Linked DNA regions of Homo sapiens: region 1 is linked to region 2. Evidence: fine-mapped expression QTL. A gene starts in region 2. The other region holds a variant in brackets. All regions are shown on one strand. Distances are from middle to middle.

Region 1 (10,972 bases), 38 kb after region 2:
GCATGGATCAGAATTTCTTTTCCAATTCCTTTGAGGCTTTATGGGATACTGTGAAATATATATTTGGTTTTTGTCCCTGTCTCCTGTCATACAACTCCTAATATCCTTGGAACCTCCAAAGACATCAGTGTCTTTATGTATACTAATGAGTTGACTGGTGACTGGCAGGCCCTGGGTAACTTCGGGATGGGGGCTGGTCACTGCAAAGACCAAAGCATCATTAGAGGGTTGGGACTTTCAACCTCACCCCCAAACCTCTGGGAAGGGGTGGGGGTTGAAGGTCAAGTTGATCACTCACGGCCAATGATTTAATCAATCATGCCTACACAATGAAGCTTCGATAAAAACCCAGAACAGGTGGCTTCGGGGATGTTCTGGATAGCTAAATGCATGAAGGTTCCTGGAGGGTGCCATACCCAGAGAGGGCATGGAAGCACCATGTGCCTTCCCTCATAACTCACCGTATGTATCCCTTTATCTGTAACCTTTGTAATGTCTTTTACAATAAACTAGTAAATGTGTTTCCCTGAGTTCTGTGAGCTGCTTTAGCAAATAAATCAAACCCATTGAGAGTGTTTTAGGAAGCCCAATGTATTGTTGACTGGTCAGAAGCACGAGTAAAACAATATGGAGCTTACAATTGGCATCAGAAGTAGTGGGCAGTCTTGCGGGACTGAGCCCTCAACCGGTGGGATCTAATGCCATCTCCAGGTAAACAGCGTCAGAATTGAATTGAATTAGAGGATACTCAGCTGGTGTCAGCTGAAGACCCTGCTGCAGAACTAATTGATTGGTTGTTGGTGGGGAGAAATCTCCATTCATTTCTTGGTGATGAGAGATCACAGAAGTCTTTTATGGTATGATGTGAGAGCAGATGTGAAAACAGCAGATGAGAAAACAGTTTGCTTTTTCTACAGGCTGTAATTTCTTTAATAATATTAAAGGCTTTGGGCAGGCACGGTGGCTCACATCTATAACCTCAGCACTTTGGGAGGCTGAGGCAGGAAAAATGCTTGAGGCCAGAAGTTCAAAACCAGCCTGGTCAACATAGAAAAACCCCGTCTCTACAAAAGAAAAATTTAAAAATTAGCTGGAGGTGGTGGTGCACACCTCTAGTCCCAGCTACTCAGGAGGCTGAGGTGGTGGATTGCCTAAGCCGAGGAGGTCAACGCTCCAGTGAGCCATGATTCTTCCACTACACTCCAGTCTGTTTGACAGAGCAAGACTCTGTCTCTAAAAAAAAAAATAATAAAAAATAAAAATAAATTAAAGGCTTTAATTCCTTGAATAATATCCTATTGCTTGTATGTGCCACATTTCATCTCTCTATTCATCGTTAGTGGACACTTGGGTTGTTTCCACATTTTGGCTGTTGTGAATAATGCTGCTACTATGAACAGACACAAATATCTGTTTGAATTCTTACCTTCACTTTTTTTGGGTATACACCTAAAAGTAGAATTGCTGGATCATAGGGTAATTCTATGTTTAATTTTTTGAGGAGGCACCATAGTGTTTTCTACAATAGCTTCTCCATTTTACCTTCCCACCAGCAATGTACATGGGTTCCAATTTCTCCACATCCATGTCAATGCTTGTCATTTTCTGTTTTGTTTTTGTTGTTGTCATTGTTGTTTATCTATATAGTAGCCATCCTAATGGGAGTGAAGTGGTAACTCATTGTGGTTTCAATTTGCATTTCTCTAATAATTAGTAGTGTTGAGCATCTTTTCATGTGTTTATTGGTCATTACTGAAGAAATGTCTATTCAAGTCATTTGACCGTTTTTTACTCTGGTTGTTTGTTTTTTGTTGTTACGTTGGGAGAGTTCTTTATGTATTCTGGATAGTAACCCCTTACCAGACACATGATTTGCAAATATTTTCTCTCATTCCATAGGTTGTCTTTTCTGTTGATAGTGTCCTTTGATGCACAAGTCTTAAATTATCATGTAGTTCAATGTATCTATTTTTTTTTTTTTGAGACAGTCTTGCTCTGTTGCCCAGGCTGGAGTGCAGTGGTGTGATCTCGGCTCACTGCAAGCTCCACCTTCCGGGTTCATGCCATTCTCCTGCCTCAGCCTCCCGCGTAGCTGGGACTGCAGGTGCCCGCCACTATGCCTGGCTAATTTTTTTGTATTTTTTTTAATAGAGATTGGGTAATTTATCTATTTTTGTTGTTGCTGCCTGTGCTTTTCATGTCTTATCTAAAAAATTATTGTAGAATCCTATGTCATGAAGTTTTTAGTTTATGTTTTCTTCTTAGGGTTTTATAGTTTGAACTCTTAAATTTAGGTATTTGTTTCACTTTGACTTTTTTTTTTTTCTTTTTGAGACAGGGTCTCATTCTGTCAACCAGGCTGGAGAGCAGTGGCACAAACTCAGCTCACTGCAACCTCCGCCTCCCTGGCTCAAGTGATCTTCCCACCTCAGCCGCAAGAGTTGCTGGGACTACAGGTGAACACCACCATGCCTGGCTAATTTGTGTGTGTGTGTGTGTGTGTGTGTGTGTGTGTGTGTGTGGAGATGGAGTTTCGCCATGTTTCCCAGGATGGTCTCGAGTTCCTGAGCTCAAGCCATCCACCCGCCTCAGCCTACCAAATTTCTGGGATTACAGGTGTGAGCCACTCCACCTGGCCTGACTTAATTTCTGTATATGGTGTAAAGTAGAGGTCCAGCTTCATTCTTTTGCATGTGGATATTCAGTTTTCCCAGCCTCATGTGTTGAAAAGACTGTTCTTACCCCATTGAATGGTCTTGGTACCTTGTTGAAAATCATCTGACTTTACATGCAAGGTTTATTTTCAGACTCTATTTTATTCCATTGGTCTATATATCTGTCTTTATGCTAGTACCATGAGAAGTCACTTTTTTTTTTTTTTTTTTTGAGATGATGTCTCGCTCTGTTGCCCAGGCTGGAGTACAGTGGCGCGATCTCAGCTAATTTTTGTAGTTTTAGTAGAGACGGGGTTTCACCATGTTGGCCAGGCTGGTCTCAAACTCCTGACCTCAGGTGATCCGCACACCTTGGCCTCCCAAAGTGCTGGGATTACAGGCATGAGCCACTGCGCCCGGCCTAATTTTTTTTTCTTAAGACAGGATCTCGCTCTGTCACCCAGGTTGGAGTGCAATGGAGTGATCTCGGCTCACTGCAACCTCTGCTTCCTGGGTTCAAGCAATTCTCCTGCCTCAGCCTCCCGGGTAGCTGGGACCACAGGCATGCGCCACCACGTCTGGATAATTTGTGTGTGTGTGTGTGTGTGTGTGTGTGTGTGTGTGTGTATTTTTAGTACAGACGGTGTTTCACCATGTTGACCAGGCTGGTCTCGAACTCCTGACCTCAAATGATCTGCCTACATCCACCCGCCTTAGCCTCCCAAAGTGCTGGGATTACAGGCGTGAGACCGTGCCTGGCCTGAGAAGTCAGCTTTTAAAAGAGCCTTTTTTTTACAGATGATAAAACCAAAACAAAGACAGGTTAACTAACTTATCCAAAGATATACATATAGTCAATAATTCAGAGATTTTAACTTAGTAGTCTGACACCAAACCACAGTTTTAACTACTACAAAAGAAAATGTGCCAAGTGTTTAAGCATAGAACTTCACTTGTGCAAAGTTATGAGTATGAATTTTACTGATATGTTTTGTTAAATGAAAGAACAAATATATAAAATAATATTTTAAATATATTTAAAATGTCAACATTATGACTTATACATTATATTATTATTATTTTTGAGACGGAGTCTCACTCTGTCACCCAGACTGGAGTGCAGTGGCGCAATCTCAGCTTACTGCAACCTTTGCCTCCTGGGTTCAAGCAATTCTCCTGTCTCAGTCTCCCGAGTAGCTGGGACTACAGGCGCCCGCCACCACGCCCAGCTAATTTTTTTTTTTTTTTTTGTAGTAGAGATGGGGTTTCACCATATTGGTCTGGCTGGTCTCAAACTCCTGACCTCAGGTGATCCACCCACGTCAGCCTCCCAAAGTGTTGGGATTACAAGCGTGAGCCACTGTGCCCAGCCGACTTATACATTTTAACTTGAATCACAGTATGCCCAAATCTATGTAATAATGATTTATATCGTAAAAAATCCCCACTCCTCACAACATTTTCAGGAAGATAGGTCTGTGTTTCCAATAATCTTCACCTTAACGGCCCATAGGCCCTTCAATTCAATCATATTTATACCTCAACTCATGATCTTTGGACTCCTCTGTTCTATTCTAGTCCATCTTTTCTTTAATTTTTGAAACACAAATCTGATCTCATTCTCTGATTCAAATGTTTTAATGTGAAGGTTAGAAAATGGCTAAATTGAGCTTGCAGAAATATTTTGTTTGACCTTCAGTTTTTCCAACATTGAAAAAATCAGGAGATTTCTTGCAAAAATCCTGATTCCTGGCCTCTCTTGAAGAATTTGGTTGTCTTGCAACATGTCCTGCGTTGCCATATGGCCGCAACTACTTGCATCTCCACCCAGTTAATCTGCTCTGGGGCCTACAAACATCTGACTTTACAGATAATGCTCTAAGGGTTCCTTGGGGCCTGCAGTACTGTCAGGACAAACTGGTTCCTTAGGCAGCAATGAGATTAGTGAACTAAACGTCCACATATCAACCTGAATGATCTTCAAAACACTGCTGAGTGAAAAAAAGTAAGAAACAAGCTGAGACCTATAGCATAATTTATATAAATTAAAAATATATACATATCATAAAAGAGTTCACATTTCACGAGAAGATACTCCAATAAAATGGACATATATCACACACTTGGAACATTTTATAGTTAAGGACACAGAAAGGGAGGGGAGTATACTAGGAACTGAGAAGTGCCATTAACTCAATAAGCTGGAGCTGATATCCCCCAAAAAAGTGGGAAAAAAAGAAGTTAAAAACTTTTTTTTTGAGACAGAATCTTGCTCTGAATGAATAACATATTTTTCATTTTAGACATTGTAGTTTAAGTCTCTAATTCAATTTGGACCTTTAAAAACCTTCCAGTCTATTTAACTTGCT[C/T]ATTTTTTCTCTACCTTATTAAACATATGAAATACAGTTAAAGTAACTCTTTTATGCCTTTAGTTATTATATCATTTGTGTCATTTACAGATCTGTTTCCATTGATTGATTATTCTCATTATATGTCATATTTTCCTGATTTTTCCATGTCTGGGCATTTTTGGTTGAATGTAAGATGCTCTGAATGTTTTCTTGTTGGGAGGTGGATATTTTTATATTTATATACATATTCTTGAGCTTTTTTTCAGGGATACAGTTAACTTGCTTGGAACACTTACTTTCAAGGATGGGGATGATGTTTAAACTTTGTTAGGGAGGACCAGAGCAGCCTTTATTACAAGACTAATTTTTCCCAGTCCTGAGGAAATACTCTTTTAGGAATTATTTTAAACAATATCATTTACTAATTATATATATATATGTATATGTGTGTGTATATCTATGTATATATATGCCAAGTGCAGTGGCTCATCCCTGTAATCCCAGAACTTTGGGAGGCTGAGGCAGGCAGATTGCTTGAGCCCGGGAGTACAAGACCAGCCTGGGCAACATAGTGAAGCTCTGTCTCCACAAAAAATACAAGAATTAGCTGAATATGGTGGCCCATGCCCACAGTCTCAGCAACTCGGGCTGCCAAGGTGGGAGGACTGCTTGAGTCTGGGAGGTAAAGGCTGCAGTCAGCCATTTCATGCCACTGCACTCCAGCCTGGGTGACAGAGTAAGACCCTGTTTAAATAATTATAATTGATGTATAAAATTATTATACATAATTATGATATATATATTTCCTTTCTGGCTTATGGAAATGCAAAATATTCCTAGCTCTTTGAGAAGTTTAGGAATTATTTCCTTGAATCATTTTAGTGTCTCTTCCTCAAACTAAGGTAGTTTCCTCATATGCTTACACTGATGTATACTCAGCTGAAGACATGATCTTGGAGCTTCCACCCCTATCTCTGCACTCTTTCCTCTTCAGCATTCTGCCCTGCAAACTTAAGCCACCTTGCCTCCCAAGACTCCCAATTCCATCTTGTAAATTCAGGGAGACTGCTAGGTTCCACCTGGGTTTCCACTCTCTGTGCTGTATCTTCCATACAGTAAGATGGGGCAGAAGTAGGGATCATCTCATTTGTTTCTCCCATCTCAGGGATCGCTGTCCTCTATCACCTGATGTCCAATATCTGAAAACTATTATTTCATGTATGTTGTCAGGTTTTTGTAGTTGTTTCCTGTAGGAGGGTAAATCTAGTCTCTGTTACTACATCTTGGCCAGAAGAAGAAGATAGCCTCATATATAATTTAATTTGATTCTCAGCATTACTCTGGGGCAGATAATATTATTACAGATGAAGATCTGAAGCTTGGAGAAATTAAATAACCTTTTCTAGAGGCTTGCACAGTATATGATGCATGGGCACTAAAACAACATAAACCAAACCAAACCAAAACGAGAAACACAAAGCCTTCCTGATGGTAAGTAAAAGGGCAAATCAAGGATGATAACAAAAATCCTTTTACTCCAAGCACTTTACCCTTTCTGCATTTATCACTGCCTCAGAGCACTGTTGGACTACCTATGTAGCAAAGACATGGAGGGCTGGTTTAAAGTGTTAATGTCTGTGTTCCATCCCTGATATACTAAATCAAAATCTCTGCTGTCAATCCTTAGAATCTCCATTTCTGATAAATTCCCCACCCCTTGCCTTAAGAAATAGAAAAGACTCCACAGAACTTTTAATTTTATCCTCTCTCAAACCTCTTCAAGAATCTTCCTCTAGGTTATCATCCTGATTTCTTCAACTTTCCTTTGTTTCTGGATCTTTCCTTTTATAAAAATATTCTATTTTCTCCCAGCTTAAAAACAGACTCTTGCAAAACCAAATGTAAAATTCTAAGCCCCCCAACCAGTGGAATGGACCCCTCCTCTTGCTCAAGGGCATTCCAAAGTTAACCTGAAAAACTAGTCCAGGCCATGATGGGAAGGGGGGTTAAATATGCCTCATTGTACCCTCCTCCCTTTGAAATTCAGGGACAACTGACCAACATTAACATTAAGACACAGATCTTAAGACTGTCATCCTAAGACTGACATCAAACAGATTCTTTGTAACGATAAGACACTAAATGCCAAACTGACTCTATTATAGCATCACATAACAGATAGCAGGCCCTGAAAGAAATTGAAGTATTTTACCCTAAAATACATTTCTTTGACACATTTTGAAATGGCCCTGTAAAGCTGTCTCTCACGGGGATATCTGCATTCTGTACAGAATCCTCTTCCCTTTCCAGGTCTTTTTCCTGATCCAGGAGAGAATTAACCAAAAGTCTGGCACCTTTTTAAGTCTGATAAGAAACATTTACAATCTATTATCTCTGAAGCCTGTTGCCTGGGAGCTTCATCTGCATAAAAGGAATATTGATCTCCATGACCTTTTATCCTAACCCAGACACTTCATTCTATTGATTCCAGGTCTATAGATAAACTCTTTCAACCAATTGCCAAACAGAAAATCTTTGAATCCATCTATGACATGGAGGCTTCTTCCAACCCTGTCCCCCACCCCACCACTGCTTCTGCTTCCAGTAATCCTTCTGCTCTGGACCAAACCAACATACATCTTACATATACTGATCGATGCTGTATATGTATATGCAAGACTCCGTCTCAAAAAAAAAAAAGGTTAACAGGGAAATAACTTTAAATAATGACTATCACACACAGTGTTGTGAATAATCTAGATAAACTATTAAATAATCAAGTAAATGTAATGAAATAAATGCTTATAAACAAACTTGCCATATAATTTAGAATCTAAGGTTATTAATTGATATTAAGGATCTGGGTAATTTCCAATCCAATTTAAAAATTACAGAAAACCTTTTTTTTTTTTTTTTTAAGATGGAGTCTCACTCTGTCACCCAGGCTGGAGTGCAGTGGCGTGATCTTGGTTCACTGCAAGCTCCACCTCCTGGGTTTACACCATTCTCCTGCCTCAGCCTCCTGAGTAGCTGGGACTACAGGTGCCCACCACCACGCCCGGCTAATTTTTTTTTTTGCATTTTTAGTAGAGACAGGGTTTCACCACGTTAGCCAGGATGGTTTTGATCTCCTGACCTCGTGATCCACCCACCTCGGCCTCCCAAAGTGCTGGGATTACAGGCGTGAGCCACCATACCTGGCAGAAAACCTTTTTTTAATGTTCTTATAAAAGTTCAATATGGAAGGGAGGAGCCAAGATGGTCGAATAGGAACAGCTCCGGTCTACAGCTCCCAGCGTGAGCGACGCAGAAGACGGGTGATTTCTGCATTTCCATCTGAGGTACCGGGTTCATCTCACTAGGGAGTGCCAGACAGTGGGCGCAGGCCAGTGGGTGCGTGCACCGTGCGTGAGCCGAAGCAGGGCGAGGCATTGCCTCACCTGGGAAGCGCAAGGGGTCAGGGAGTTCCCTTTCCGAGTCAAAGAAAGGGGTGACGGACGCACCTGGAAAATCGGGTCACTCCCACCCGAATATTGCGCTTTTCAGACCGGCTTAAGAAACGGCGCACCACGAGACTATATCCCACACCTGGCTCAGAGGGTCCTACGCCCACGGAGTCTCGCTGATTGCTAGCACGGCAGTCTGAGATCAAACTGCAAGGCAGCAACGAGGCTGGGGGAGGGGCGTCCGCCATTGCCCAGGCTTGCTTAGGTAAACAAAGCAGCCGGGAAGCTCGAACTGGGTGGAGCCCACCACAGCTCAAGGAGGCCTGCCTGCCTCTGTAGGCTCCACCTCTGGGGGCAGGGCACAGACAAACAAAAAGACAGCAGTAACCTCTGCAGACTTAAGTGTCCCTGTCTGACAGCTTTGAAGAGAGCAGTGGTTCTCCCAGCACGCAGCTGGAGATCTGAGAACGGGCAGACTGCCTCCTCAAGTGGGTCCCTGACCCCTGACCCCCGAGCAGCCTAACTGGGAGGAGGCACCCCCCAGCAGGGGCACACTGACACCTCACACGGCAGGGTATTCCAACAGACCTGCAGCTGAGGGTCCTGTCTGTTAGAAGGAAAACTAACAACCAGAAAGGACATCTACACCGAAAATCCATCTGTACAGCACCATCATCAAAGACCAAAAGTAGATAAAACCACAAAGATGGGGAAAAAACAGAACAGAAAAACTGGAAACTCTAAAACGCAGAGCGCCTCTCCTCCTCCAAAGGAACGCAGTTCCTCACCAGCAACAGAACAAAGCTGGATGGAGAATGATTTTGACGAGCTGAGAGAAGAAGGCTTCAGACGATCAAATTACTCTGAGCTATGGGAGGACATTCAAACCAAAGGCAAAGAAGTTGAAAACTTTGAAAAAAATTTAGAAGAATGTATAACTAGAATAACCAATACAGAGAAGTGCTTAAAGGAGCTGATGGAGCTGAAAACCAAGGCTCGAGAACTACGTGAAGAATGCAGAAGCCTCAGGAGCCGATGCGATCAACTGGAAGAAAGGGTATCAGCAATGGAAGATGAAATGAATGAAATGAAGCGAGAAGGGAAGTTTAGAGAAAAAAGAATAAAAAGAAATGAGCAAAGCCTCCAAGAAATATGGGACTATGTGAAAAGACCAAATCTACGTCTGATTGGTGTACCTGAAAGTGATGTGGAGAATGGAACCAAGCTGGAAAACACTCTGCAGGATATTATCCAGGAGAACTTCCCCAATCTAGCAAGGCAGGCCAACGTTCAGATTCAGGAAATACAGAGAACGCCACAAAGATACTCCTCGAGAAGAGCAACTCCAAGACACATAATTGTCAGATTCACCAAAGTTGAAATGAAGGAAAAAATGTTAAGGGCAGCCAGAGAGAAAGGTCAGGTTACCCGCAAAGGAAAGCCCATCAGACTAACAGCGGATCTCTCGGCAGAAACCCTACAAGCCAGAAGAGAGTGGGGGCCAATATTCAACATTCTTAAAGAAAAGAATTTTCAACCCAGAATTTCATATTCAGCCAAACTAAGCTTCATAAGTGAAGGAGAAATAAAATACTTTATAGACAAGCAAATGCTGAGAGATTTTGTCACCACCAGGCCTGCCCTAAAAGAGCTCCTGAAGGAAGCGCTAAACATGGAAAGGAACAACTGGTACCAGCCGCTGCAAAATCATGCCAAAATGTAAAGACCATCGAGACTAGGAAGAAACTGCATCAACTAATGAGCAAAATCACCAGCTAACATCATAATGACAGGATCAAATTCACACATAACAATATTAACTTTAAATATAAATGGACTAAATTCTGCAATTAAAAGACACAGACTGGCAAGTTGGATAAAGAGTCAAGACCCATCAGTGTGCTGTATTCAGGAAACCCATCTCACGTGCAGAGACACACATAGGCTCAAAATAAAAGGATGGAGGAAGATCTACCAAGCCAATGGAAAACAAAAAAAGGCAGGGGTTGCAATCCTAGTCTCTGATAAAACAGACTTTAAACCAACAAAGATCAAAAGAGACAAAGAAGGCCATTACATAATGGTAAAGGGATCAATTCAACAAGAGGAGCTAACTATCCTAAATATTTATGCACCCAATACAGGAGCACCCAGATTCATAAAGCAAGTCCTCAGTGACCTACAAAGAGACTTAGACTCCCACACATTAATAATGGGAGACTTTAACACCCCACTGTCAACATTAGACAGATCAACGAGACAGAAAGTCAACAAGGATACCCAGGAATTGAACTCAGCTCTGCACCAAGCAGACCTAATAGACATCTACAGAACTCTCCACCCCAAATCAACAGAATATACACTTTTTTCAGCACCACACCACACCTATTCCAAAATTGACCACATAGTTGGAAGTAAAGCTCTCCTCAGCAAATGTAAAAGAACAGAAATTATAACAAACTATCTCTCAGACCACAGTGCAATCAAACTAGAACTCAGGATTAAGAATCTCACTCAAAGC
Region 2 (10,972 bases):
TCTGTGGCCCAGGCTGGAGTGCAGTGGTGTGATCTCAGCTCACTGCAACCTACACCTCTGGGTTCCACCAATCCTCATGCCTTGGCCTCCCAAGTAGCTGCGTGTGCCACCACACCCAGCTAATTTTTGTATTATTAGTAGAGATGGGGTTTCACCATGTTGGCCAGGCTGGTCTCGAACTCCTGACCTCAGGTGATCTACCTGCCTCAGCCTCCCAAAGTTCTGGGATTACAGGCATGAGCCACCGTGCCCAGACAAGCACCCAAGGTTTTCCCACACATAGAGCATATGCCTAGGAGCAGAGGAATAGACTAAATGATCTATTATCCTGTATCCTGTAAGAAACAGACCCAACTACCCATGTGCTCCAAAGCCATACTCCATAACCATCTTGGGCACTGCACCCTGGAACGCTGCACACACAGAACTCCCTTCAGTTCCCACCAACTGTGGGACCTCTACCCCTCATCGGGCCATCTTCATGCACTGCTTCCAACTGTGATTTATCCATCTGTGTGTACATCTGGGCCCCATTCAATTTTAACTTAAATTCCTCGAGGACACAGAAATCCTCTGGATATCTTCCCTGGCTCCAAATATACACTGCCTACCCTGTGGCTAGGCAGTCAATCAATATGTGCTCGTTGAAAAAATGATCTATCTCCCACATACAGTTTTCCATTTTCAGTTTCAGGCAGCACAAGCATTGCTGACTATCATACCCTTCTCTACACGCTCAACAGAAAGGCTACCAAGCTTTTCTCTTCGGTCTATAGGGTTATTGATATAGTTAGGTGCTCAAATTGGAGGCGCTTCCTGAGGGGAACCAGACAGCAAAATTCATGGATTTTGCCCTAGGAGTGCCCATTCTCCATCTCTACCTACAAAACTAAAACTCTAAATAAGCAAGGCAAAGGACATGCCAGGCAAGAACACTGCCAGTTTGTACCGGGATTTTGCTGGGATTAAGTTGATTACCGTTGCTTTAAAACATATTTGGAGCATTTACAGTTTGCAAAGGCAACATGATAGGACCTTTGAATACAAAAATATATACAAGTAGTACCATATCTTGGAAAGAAGACAGGCTCGAGAGCCAACAGATCTGCCAATGGCTGGCTGAGTGACAAGCATCATTGGTCCTGATTTCCTCATTTGTTATAAGGAAGGTGTTGGTACAGAGTTAACATCTTTAGGAGTTATTTTTAATAAATCAATAATTTAATTAATCATTTTGATTGAAGTAATATGTTTATTTAATCCAATATATCCAAAGTGTTACCATTTCAAAATGTAATCCACAAAAAAACTAATGAGGCAGTTTTTATTCTTTTTTTATACTAAGCCCTTTGAAATCCAGTGTATATTTTCCATTTACAGTACATCTCACTTTGGACTAGCCACATTGCAAGTGCTCAACAGTCAAATGTGGCCTGTGGCTACCGCAAGGGACAACACAGCTCTAAAGCAAACACAAGTAATTGCCAGTCAGGGGTTCTTCATCTTCAGTACATAGACCCCTGCAGGCTCTTTGAAGGTAACTATATTTCAATGAAATTGGTTTCCTTTACAAGACTAAGTATTTTATTTTATGCATTTAAAAACATTATTTGGAGAAGGAGCCCACAGGCTTCTCCATACCACCAAAGGAGGTCATAGTGCAAAAAAGATTAAGAATCCCTGAGCAACAAAAAAGTGAGATTAGAAAAGATGGCAGAATGCAGTAGAGAGTAAAACAGTTTTCACAGCCCAGGGATTTGTGTTGATTAAGGCAGTACTCTGTGATGGCTAAGAGCATAGGCTTTGGGTTCCTGTCCTGGTCCTGTCACTCCTAGTTGGGAGACTTTGGGCAAGTTATCAACCTCACTGTGCCTCAATTTCATCATCTATAAAATGGAGTTTAAAACAGTGCTTCCCTTGAAGATTACTTTTTGGACTAAATGAGATCATCTTTGAAGTGTTAAGTACAATGTGCAGAATATAGAAAGCATCCAATAAATATCAATCATTCTAGAAAAATCAAAGCTGGGCACGGTGGCTCACACCTGTAATCCCAGCAACTGGAGAGGCTGAGGCAGGAGGATTGGTTGAGCCCATGAGTTTGAGGCTATAGTGAGCTATGATCACACTACTGTATGCCAGCCTGGGTGACAAAGTGAGACCCTATCTTTAAAAAAAAAAAAAAAAAAGTTAAAAATAATTCTAGGAAAACCAGGATAGCTAACTTACATAGAAATGTGATGTGGGGGCTGGGCACAGTGGCTCATGCCTGTAATCCCAGCACTTTGGGAGGCTGAGGTGCGTGGATCACCTGAGGTCAGGAGTTCAAGACCAGCCTGGCCAACATGGCAAAACCCTGTCTCTACTAAAAATACAAAAAAAAAAAATTAGCTGAGCATGGTGGCAGGTGCCTGTAATCCCAGCTACTTGGGAGGCTGAGGCAGGAGAATCGCTTGAGCCCAAGAGGCAGAGGTTGCAGTGAGCCGAGATCATGCCATTGCACTCCAGCCTGGGCAACAAGAGCGAAACTCCATCTCAAGAAAGAAAGAAAGAAAGAAAGAGAGAAAAGAAAGAAAGAAAGAAAGAAAGAAAGAAAGAAAGAAAGAAAGAAAGAAAGAAAGAAAGAAGGAAAGAAGGAAAGAAGGAAAGAAGGAAAGAAGGAAAGAAGGAAAGAAGGAAAGAAGGAAAGAAGGAAAGAAAGAAAGAAAGAGAGAAAGAAAGAAAGAAAGAAAGAAAGAAAGAAAGAAAGAAAGAAAGGTGATGTGGGAGTGCTTCAAGTAAAAGAAAAATTATCCCTGCCATGATATTCTCTGTGCAATGCTTCAATATGCTTATCAAACAAGAGAACTATTGCTGAAAGAATTTTAGCATCTTTTTTACTAAGGCTTCTTTTTTCAATTTATTTGTTCAAAGGTTCCTGGATCGTGGGTTCCATTTTACAGAGATATGAAAGCCAATCCGATAGTGTTGCAGGTATTTACACTGCCTTTAAATTTGTACTTTTCTCTGGGAATGACAGGGGAGAAGCAGATGGTGACACCAGTGGGGTTTCTGATTTGAAATGACACAGTCTATATGATTAACCAGCAACAAGAGGCCAATCCAACCAGAATCTAGGACTAAGACTGAGTTTTGAGTGTTGGCAACAGGAAGAGTGTGCTGAAAGCACTCTGCCCAGGCAGAGTGTAGAGAAAATGGATTCATCTAGAAAATTATAAAAGACGAAATGAATATCACAGCTCTAGGGTTCAGACACATGCTCATTTGAAACAGTCCATAATATAGACTGATTGTTTTTTGTCAACTCATTATCCAAGAGCCAAGAAGTGCTGCATGAATGACCATCTGGAGATGAAGTTAAAGTGAAAGCCAGTGCTGGGAAACTAGTCACTCAACACCCAAACTGAATCCAGCATTTGTGGAAAGACCTCAGGCTGTGGCACAGATGAGAGTCAGGCGTTCTGACTGGCCCCACTATAGCCTCCAGGAGGGCTCTGTGGATTGGGGTTGGCAGCACTTCCTTAGATGGTGACCCTGCCTTCCTTCCTTTAGCCCACTTTCTTTCGCCCTCCTCTCTTCACGGAGTGCTTTCATCCTTCAACTAAAATGTCTGAAACAACCTTATTTTCCATCCTGGCAAGCTTGCACCATCCTCATTCATAGCTCATCTGGGAGCCTTCTTTTCCTTAAAGTAGGATTAATACAAGCGATAGCTTATTCCCTTTAGACTTCCAAGATCAAAAATAAATACGTACATACATGAAAATGGCAGAAAGAAGGAACCATGGGAGGGTCGCCTTTTCTTTTTCTCTTTACCACAGAACAGAGCGCAGGACTATAGTCTGATTGTCCTACAATCTATTCCATTTATTTTCACTCCCAATAGATGGTGTAATTTGGAAAAGAAAAGACACTCACGGGGCTTAACAGAGACCCAGTAGGAAACGCATAAACGTCTCCCTGCAGCACAATGATGCACTCGCTGCATCTCGGGGCTGCGGTACAAATGCTCAGTCCCTGCTTTGCTGAGCTGACCCGAGTGGAGCGGAGCGGTGGAGATTTCACCACGCTAACCCCGCTGGGCCTCGGCACCTCCACACAAGCCCCATTCCATCTCCTTCTTCCCATCACTTGGTCCATAGATCAACTGATTCCGTGCCTCGTCCCCCATATCCGTCCCTAAAACCTACCCTGCACTGATCCACCTTCAGATTTCCCACTGCTCCTCCGCAGAACCCACCCAGTGTGCATGTTTGTGCACATTTTGACAGAAAAAGTATTTCGTTGCATATGGATCAGCAACCCCTTCGCGGTTCTGCTTGCTCCCCTCCCCCTCCTCCCGCTGCTCCATTCACCTCCATCTCAGATCCCCCTCCTCCCCCCAGTCCGGTGGGGTAAAGAAAGCCTCCTCCAGGCAGCACAATGGCTGGCACTCTGAGGAAGCCGGACTCATCCCGTGCAGGCCGCATACACACTCCACTGCCCTTCCGGCCAAACAAGCCCGGACACGGGAGAGGGATGAGAGTCGGGGATGCCTAGCGGCGAGGAGAGAAGGGATAGGCAAAAGGGAAGAAGAGCGGGCTGTGATACCTCCTCGACGCCGTCAAACACTGCTCCCCGCATTCCAGAGCCCGGGGCCCACCCGACGGCAGCGCGCCCCGCCACCGCGCAGCCGCCCCGGTCCCTTCTCCCGCCCGTCTGTAGTAAAACAATCGCTCTCCCGGCGTCTGCGGCCGCTGCCAGCGGTTCTGACACTGCAGGAATGCGCGGTCTGGGGAAGGCTCCGCACTCTGGGGAGGGGCACGAGCGGGGTCGGGGGTAAGTTTTTAGGGACAAAGATGATCTTGGGGCGTTTACGGTGACTGGACCAGATAACGGTCCCGGGACGAGGTACCGACCCACTGCCCCAGCGCGATCGGGCGGCGTTCCCTTCTTCCCCCAGCCCCCATACCTCGCCGCCCTGCCTTCACACGCGCGCACACACGCGGGCACACACACGCGGACACACACACACACACACACACACACACACACACACCAGGCCTGGCTGGAGGGCCGATGCTGAGATGATACTGGAAGTGCCCATCATCCCACATCTCCAGGGCCTGGCGCGGCGTCCCAGCTGCGCTCCCTGAAGGGCTGGGCAGGAAGGCGACGGCCTCCCGTTGTTCCTTTCTAATCCCAGAATGGGACCAGGTGAGGGGAGCTGCGGCGACCCCAGACCGTCCTGTCAGAGAATCCCGGGGCCTCCTTACCACCCCCACCAGACCCCACCCCCAGCAGTGAGTCGGGTCCTAACTAAAGTCAACCCCCGCGACGGCACCTGTGCGGGTCCTGGCGGAGGGAGGCGGATCCCGGGGCTCAGCCGGACACCCCCATCCACGGGCCGCGGGAGCGGCCGGAGCGCAGCGCAGCGCAGCGGAGAGCCAGCCAGCCAGCCAGCCAGCGAGCGCTCCCCGCGCAGCTCCGGCGGCGCCCGGCTCCGCTCCCGCCTCCACCCCACCCCTTCCCCGCGCTCGTGCCCGGGCTCCGGGGGCGCGCCCGCGCTCGGGCACCCACCCAACTGGCACGCGCGGGAGCTGGACGTCATCCCCTCGTTAACATTCATAGCCTTCCTCCGAGCACGTGGGCTTGCCTTTATTAATATTTATGCATTTCTGTTTCTCTCCTCTTTAACATTGGCCTTTCTGCTTCCCTCATGAATATTCAGAAACTCCAAGATGAAAGCGTGCAATAACTACCAATATGGATACCTCGCAAAGCCTGACACTAGTTTCTGGATAAAATGCAGGCGATGGCTGCTGGCGGATGCCGGCAGACACACTCAAAGACCCTTTTGGACTTTCCGAGTTTCCCATTCTCCTCTACTGGAGGCTGAGGCGGGCAGGCCCAGCGACGTCTCCCAGCTCCAACTGGGTTCGGACCTCAAGCCAAAAATGAGGAGGCCGGCAGGAGAGCTTTTCTCGCCCAAAGATGCTGGGTGGGAGCTGGATCCAGCTGAAAAATCTGAGTGAGAAGGTTTCAGGCCCAGGAGGACTTGAGATAATACAGGAAAATTCAAGAGGCTGAAATGAGAAGGGTCCCTGGAGTCTTGTGAAAAATTATTAATTTATCTTGTCTACTGTGCATAGGCCTGTGCTTATAGAAGTTGTCAATAAAAAATCTAATAATTCACGAATACACACAACTAAGAGCACAAGAACTGTAATTATCGAAGGAAGGCACTGGAAAAAGCATGTCGGCTTGGAGAACCCCAAGTACTTTTGTCTGATGGCAAAGTACCTCTGGGCTGAACTGAGGACTTCAACTGGAAGGGGCAGGGAGCGTCTCTTTTGCTCGTTTATGCATTCATTCCACAGACATTTCAACCATGAGAAGGATGGAAACAGGAATAATGTCCCAATGAGATGAGAAGAAGCGTTGGCCTATTTGCCTTTGTGGGAGCAATAGACAGAGGATGTCTTCCTGTAAGAAATCATAAGGCCAGGCACGGTGGCTCACACCTATAATCCCAACATGTTGGAAAGCTGAGGCAGGAGGATCACTTGAGGCCAGGAGTTCAAGACCAGCCTAGGCAACATAGTGAGACCCCATCTCTATAAAAAAAAAAAAATTAGCCAGGCATGGTGGGCCCATCCTGGTAGCCCATCCTGGTAGCCCCAGCTACACTGGAGGATGAGGTGGGAGGATCGCTTGAGCCCAAGAGGTTGAAGCTGCACTCCAGCCTGGGCGACAGCAAGACCTTGTCTCAAAAGTAAATAAATAAATAAATAAATCACAAAGAGTAGCTGGTTAAAAGATCCCTAGATCTCCTTTCTTGGGATCATGCCCAGTTTTGTGACCTTGGGTTAGTTAACTTCCCTGTGGCTCATTTCCTCATCTGTAAAATGAAGAAAATAATAGTGCCCGCCGGGCGCGGTGGCTCACGCCTGTAATCCCAGCACTTTGGGAGGCCGAGGCGGGCGGATCACGAGGTCAGGAGATCGAGACCATCCTGGCTAACACGGTGAAACCCCATCTCCACCAAAAATACAAAAAATCAGCTGTGCGTGGTGGCGGGCGCCTGTAGTCCCAATTACTCGGGAGGCTGAGAATGGCGTGCACCCAGGAGGCGGAGCTTGGAGTGAGCCGAGATTGCGCCACTGCACTCCAGCCTGGGTGACAGAGCGAGACTCCGACTCAAAAAAAAAAAAAAGAAAGAAAATAATAGTGCCCCACTCTATTGTGGCCTGTTGTGGGATTAAAGGAGTGAATATGAGTAAAGTACTTCCAGGTTTATTAGAAGGCACTATATGTATGTATGTGTGTATATATATACACACACACATATATATGTCATATATATGTCTCATATAGATGTCCCATATATACGTCTCATATAGATGTCCCATATATATGTCTCATATAGATGTCCCATATATGTCTCATATAGATGTCCCACATATATGTCTCATATAGATGTCCCACATATATGTCTCATATAGATGTCCCACATGTATGTCTCATATAGATGTCCCACATGTATGTCTCATATAGATGTCCCACATGTATGTCTCATATAGATGTCCCACATGTATGTCTCATATAGATGTCCCACATGTATGTCTCATATAGATGTCCCACATGTATGTCTCATATAGATGTCCCACATGTATGTCTCATATAGATGTCCCATATATATGTCTCATATAGATGTCCTATATATGTGTGTGTGTATATATATATGTGTGTGTGTATATATATGTGTGTGTGTGTATATATATATGTGTATATATATGTATATATATATATGTCTTGGCTAATTTGAGGCCATCTTTTGTCTAGATCTTCAGAGCATGGGACAAACAGATTTGAGAGAAGCTTGTGAAGTACTGAAAGTGATAAAGAACTTGGTCTTCAGCTGGTGACCTTGTTAGTTATCCTCTCTGTACCTCAGTTTTCTCATCTGTAAAATGGAGATGCCAATATCTGCTGTTGGATGCCAATATCTACTACAAGGTTGTTGTTATGCATATTAAGTAATATAATGCATGCAAAATGCTTAGCACAGTGCCTGGCATATAATAAGAAACCAATTAGTGGATTCTGTGGTTATTTTTGTGAGGCTATGAAGAAACTGAAAGCTGAGGACAAGTAGCCTAGGCTAGGTACCTAGGATGAGAAATCCCTGAACATGAGCCCAGTTATTCTTCCAGCAAACACTTATTTTATTGTAGTAAGATATATATAACATAAAAATTACTATTTTAACCATTTTTAAGTGTACAATTCACTGGTATTAAACACATTCACATTGCTGTGTAACCACCACCACTATTCATCTACAGAAATTTTGTTATCCAAACAGAAACTCTGTATCCATTAAACACTAACTCCCCAGTACTCCCTTCCCCAGCCCCTGGTAACCACTATTCTAATTTTGTCTCTAAGAATTTGACTATTCTAAGTACCTCATGTAAGTGTAATTATACAATATTTGTTTTTTGTATCTGACTTATTTCACTTAGCACAATGTTTTCAAGGTTAATCTATGTTGCAACAATGTCAGAATTTCTTTTCTTTTTAAGGTAAATAATATTCCATGGTATGTATATACTACATTTTGTTTATCTATTCATCTGCCCATGGACATTTGGATTGTTTCCACCTTTTGGCTATTGTGAATAATGCTACTAATCTGTCATGGGATTAGAGTGAGAAAGAAAGAATAAAAAAATAATGCTGCTGTCAACATCGGTGTACAAATTCCAGCAAGCATTGGTTGCATTCCATGACCTAGGCTAGAAGCTGGGGAGCTAAAAATGAAGGCATGCTTTCAAGAGGTTCCATGTTTAGTATGTTGATTTCCAAACTCTGCTGCTTAGAACCTGCAGTGGATTGAATGGTATTTTCCTAAAATTTGTGTCTACTCAGAACCTCAGAATGTGACTTTTACAGATGTAATCAGTTATGATGAGGTCATACTAGATTCGGGTAGGCCCTAAATCCAATGACTGGTGTCCTTATAAGAAGAGGAGAGGAGGCTGGGCATGGTGGCTCACACCTGTAATCCTAGCACTTTGGGAGGTGAGTAGATCAACTGTGGTCAGGAGTTCGAGACCAGCCTGGACAACATGGCGAAACCCCATCTCTACTAAAAATTAAAAAAAAAAAAAAATTAGCAGGGTGTGGTGTCACATACCTATAATCCCAGCTACCTGGGAGGCTGAGGAAGGAGAATCGCTAGAACCGGGGAGGCGCAGGTTGCAGTGAGCTGAGATCATGCCACTGTACTCCAGCCCAGGTGACAAAGCAAGACTATGTCAAAAACAAAAACAAAAAATACAAGAGGAGAGCATGCATAGGAAAGGAGGCAGAGATTGGAGTAATTCAGGTACAAGCCAAATGACACCAAGGATTGCCAGGAACCACCCAAAGCTAGAATGAGGCAAGAAAAGATTCTTCCCCAGGACCTTCAGTAGGTAGCATGGCCCTGCTGACAGCTTGATTTTGGACTTCCAGCCTCTAGAACCATGAAACCATAAATTTCTATTTAAAGATCATTTGTCGTGGCAGGCCTAGGAAACTAGTACAAATTTTGGTAGTAGAAAGTGGGATGCTGCTGTAACAAATATTTAAAAATGTGGAAGTGCCTTTGGAACATCGTAATGCAAAGAGGCTGGAAGAAGTTTGAGACACATGACAGAAAAAGCCTATATTGCCCCAAAGAGACTGTTGGTATAATTATGAATATTAAGGGCAATTCTAGTGAGGCTTCAGAAATGAGGAGACTGTAGAGAAAGTTTCTACGGTCATAGAGAATACATATATTATTATAACAAATAGGAATATGAATGTTAAAGGTGATTCTGGTAAGGTCTAAGATGGAAATGAGGAACTGTTGTTAGAAACTGAACAAAAGACAAACTGTGTTATAGAGTGGCAGAGAACTTGGCTGAATTTTGTCCTGCTCTTGGAAGGCAAGTAGAACTTGTAAGCGATGAACTTGTATATTTAGCTGAGATTTCCAGGCAAAGTGTAGGAGATTTGGCCAGGTTTCTCCTTGCTGCTTATAGTAAAATGCAAGAAGGAATGATGGTGTGGATCCCTTTCACTCCTAAGTAGCAAGTTACACAGGAGACCAACATGGTTTCTGAGAATTTTATACCAACAGAAACACTGTCAGCCTGGAATGAAAAGGACGGAGATGAAATGAAGGACAAGTCTTAGACCTCTGAAATTCCACAGGCAGAAAATAGGCTGATGTACGTTCTTGGCAGCAAACATGGGTTATCCTTCAAGAAAAAGAAAGAATGACTCTTAGGATGGGGCCCACTGCCCTGGATCCAGAGGATGGAGCATCGAACCATAAGGGATTTTTCTCAGGCCTCGAAACCTAATGGAACTTCCCCTGCTGTTCTACAAGCTTGCTTTGGACTAATGACCCCCTGTTTTCCTTCCATTTTCTCTCTTTCAAAAATGTTTTTTTAATTTTTTTTGTAGAAATGGGGTCTCACTATGTTGCCCAGGCTGGTCTCAAACTCTTGGCCTCAAGGGATCCTCCCACCTCAGCCTCCCAAAGGACTAAGATTATAGGCAAGAGCCACTGTGCCCAGCCCTCATTTTCTCCCTTCTGCAAGGGGAATGTCCATCCAATGTCTGCTCTACCACTCTATTTTGGAAACAAATCATTTGATTTCTAATTTCATAGGTCCACAATGGGAGAGGAATTTTGCCCCAGAATGTATCACACCTAGAGTTTCACCCATACCTGATTTAAATGATGAGATTTGGAACTTTTAGATTTTATATTTGTAATAGATGAGATTTAGATTTAGAGCTAATGCTGGAATGGGTTAAACCTTAGGAAAGTTGGGATGTGACCAGGTACTGTGGCTCACGCCTGTAATCCCAGCACTGTGGAAGGCTGAGATGGGCAGATCACTTGAGGTCAGGAGTTCGAGACCAGCCTGGCCAACATGGTGAAACCCTG

What was found.
Region 1: its variant is fine-mapped to the expression of FEZ1 in whole blood (TOPMed, PIP above 0.99).

What each region holds. Positions count from the first base shown.
Region 1 is chr11:125,528,360-125,539,331 of GRCh38, forward strand. No RefSeq gene overlaps it. Among named protein-coding and RNA genes, the nearest start is that of EI24, 36 kb to the right of the region's middle. RefSeq lists a cis regulatory region at 4,312-4,785 and a silencer at 5,874-6,168. The variant C/T (reference allele first, on the strand shown) is at 5,024.
Region 2 is chr11:125,490,798-125,501,769 of GRCh38, forward strand. FEZ1 (fasciculation and elongation protein zeta 1) reads right to left here and starts at 5,468. Exons shown (of 10, transcript NM_005103.5): 1 at 5,324-5,468. LOC403312 (putative uncharacterized protein MGC39545) reads left to right here and starts at 4,417. Exons shown (of 2, transcript NR_164146.1): 1 at 4,417-4,818; 2 at 5,711-8,729. RefSeq lists enhancers at 3,520-4,023, 4,526-5,029, 5,030-5,531 and a silencer at 5,406-5,655.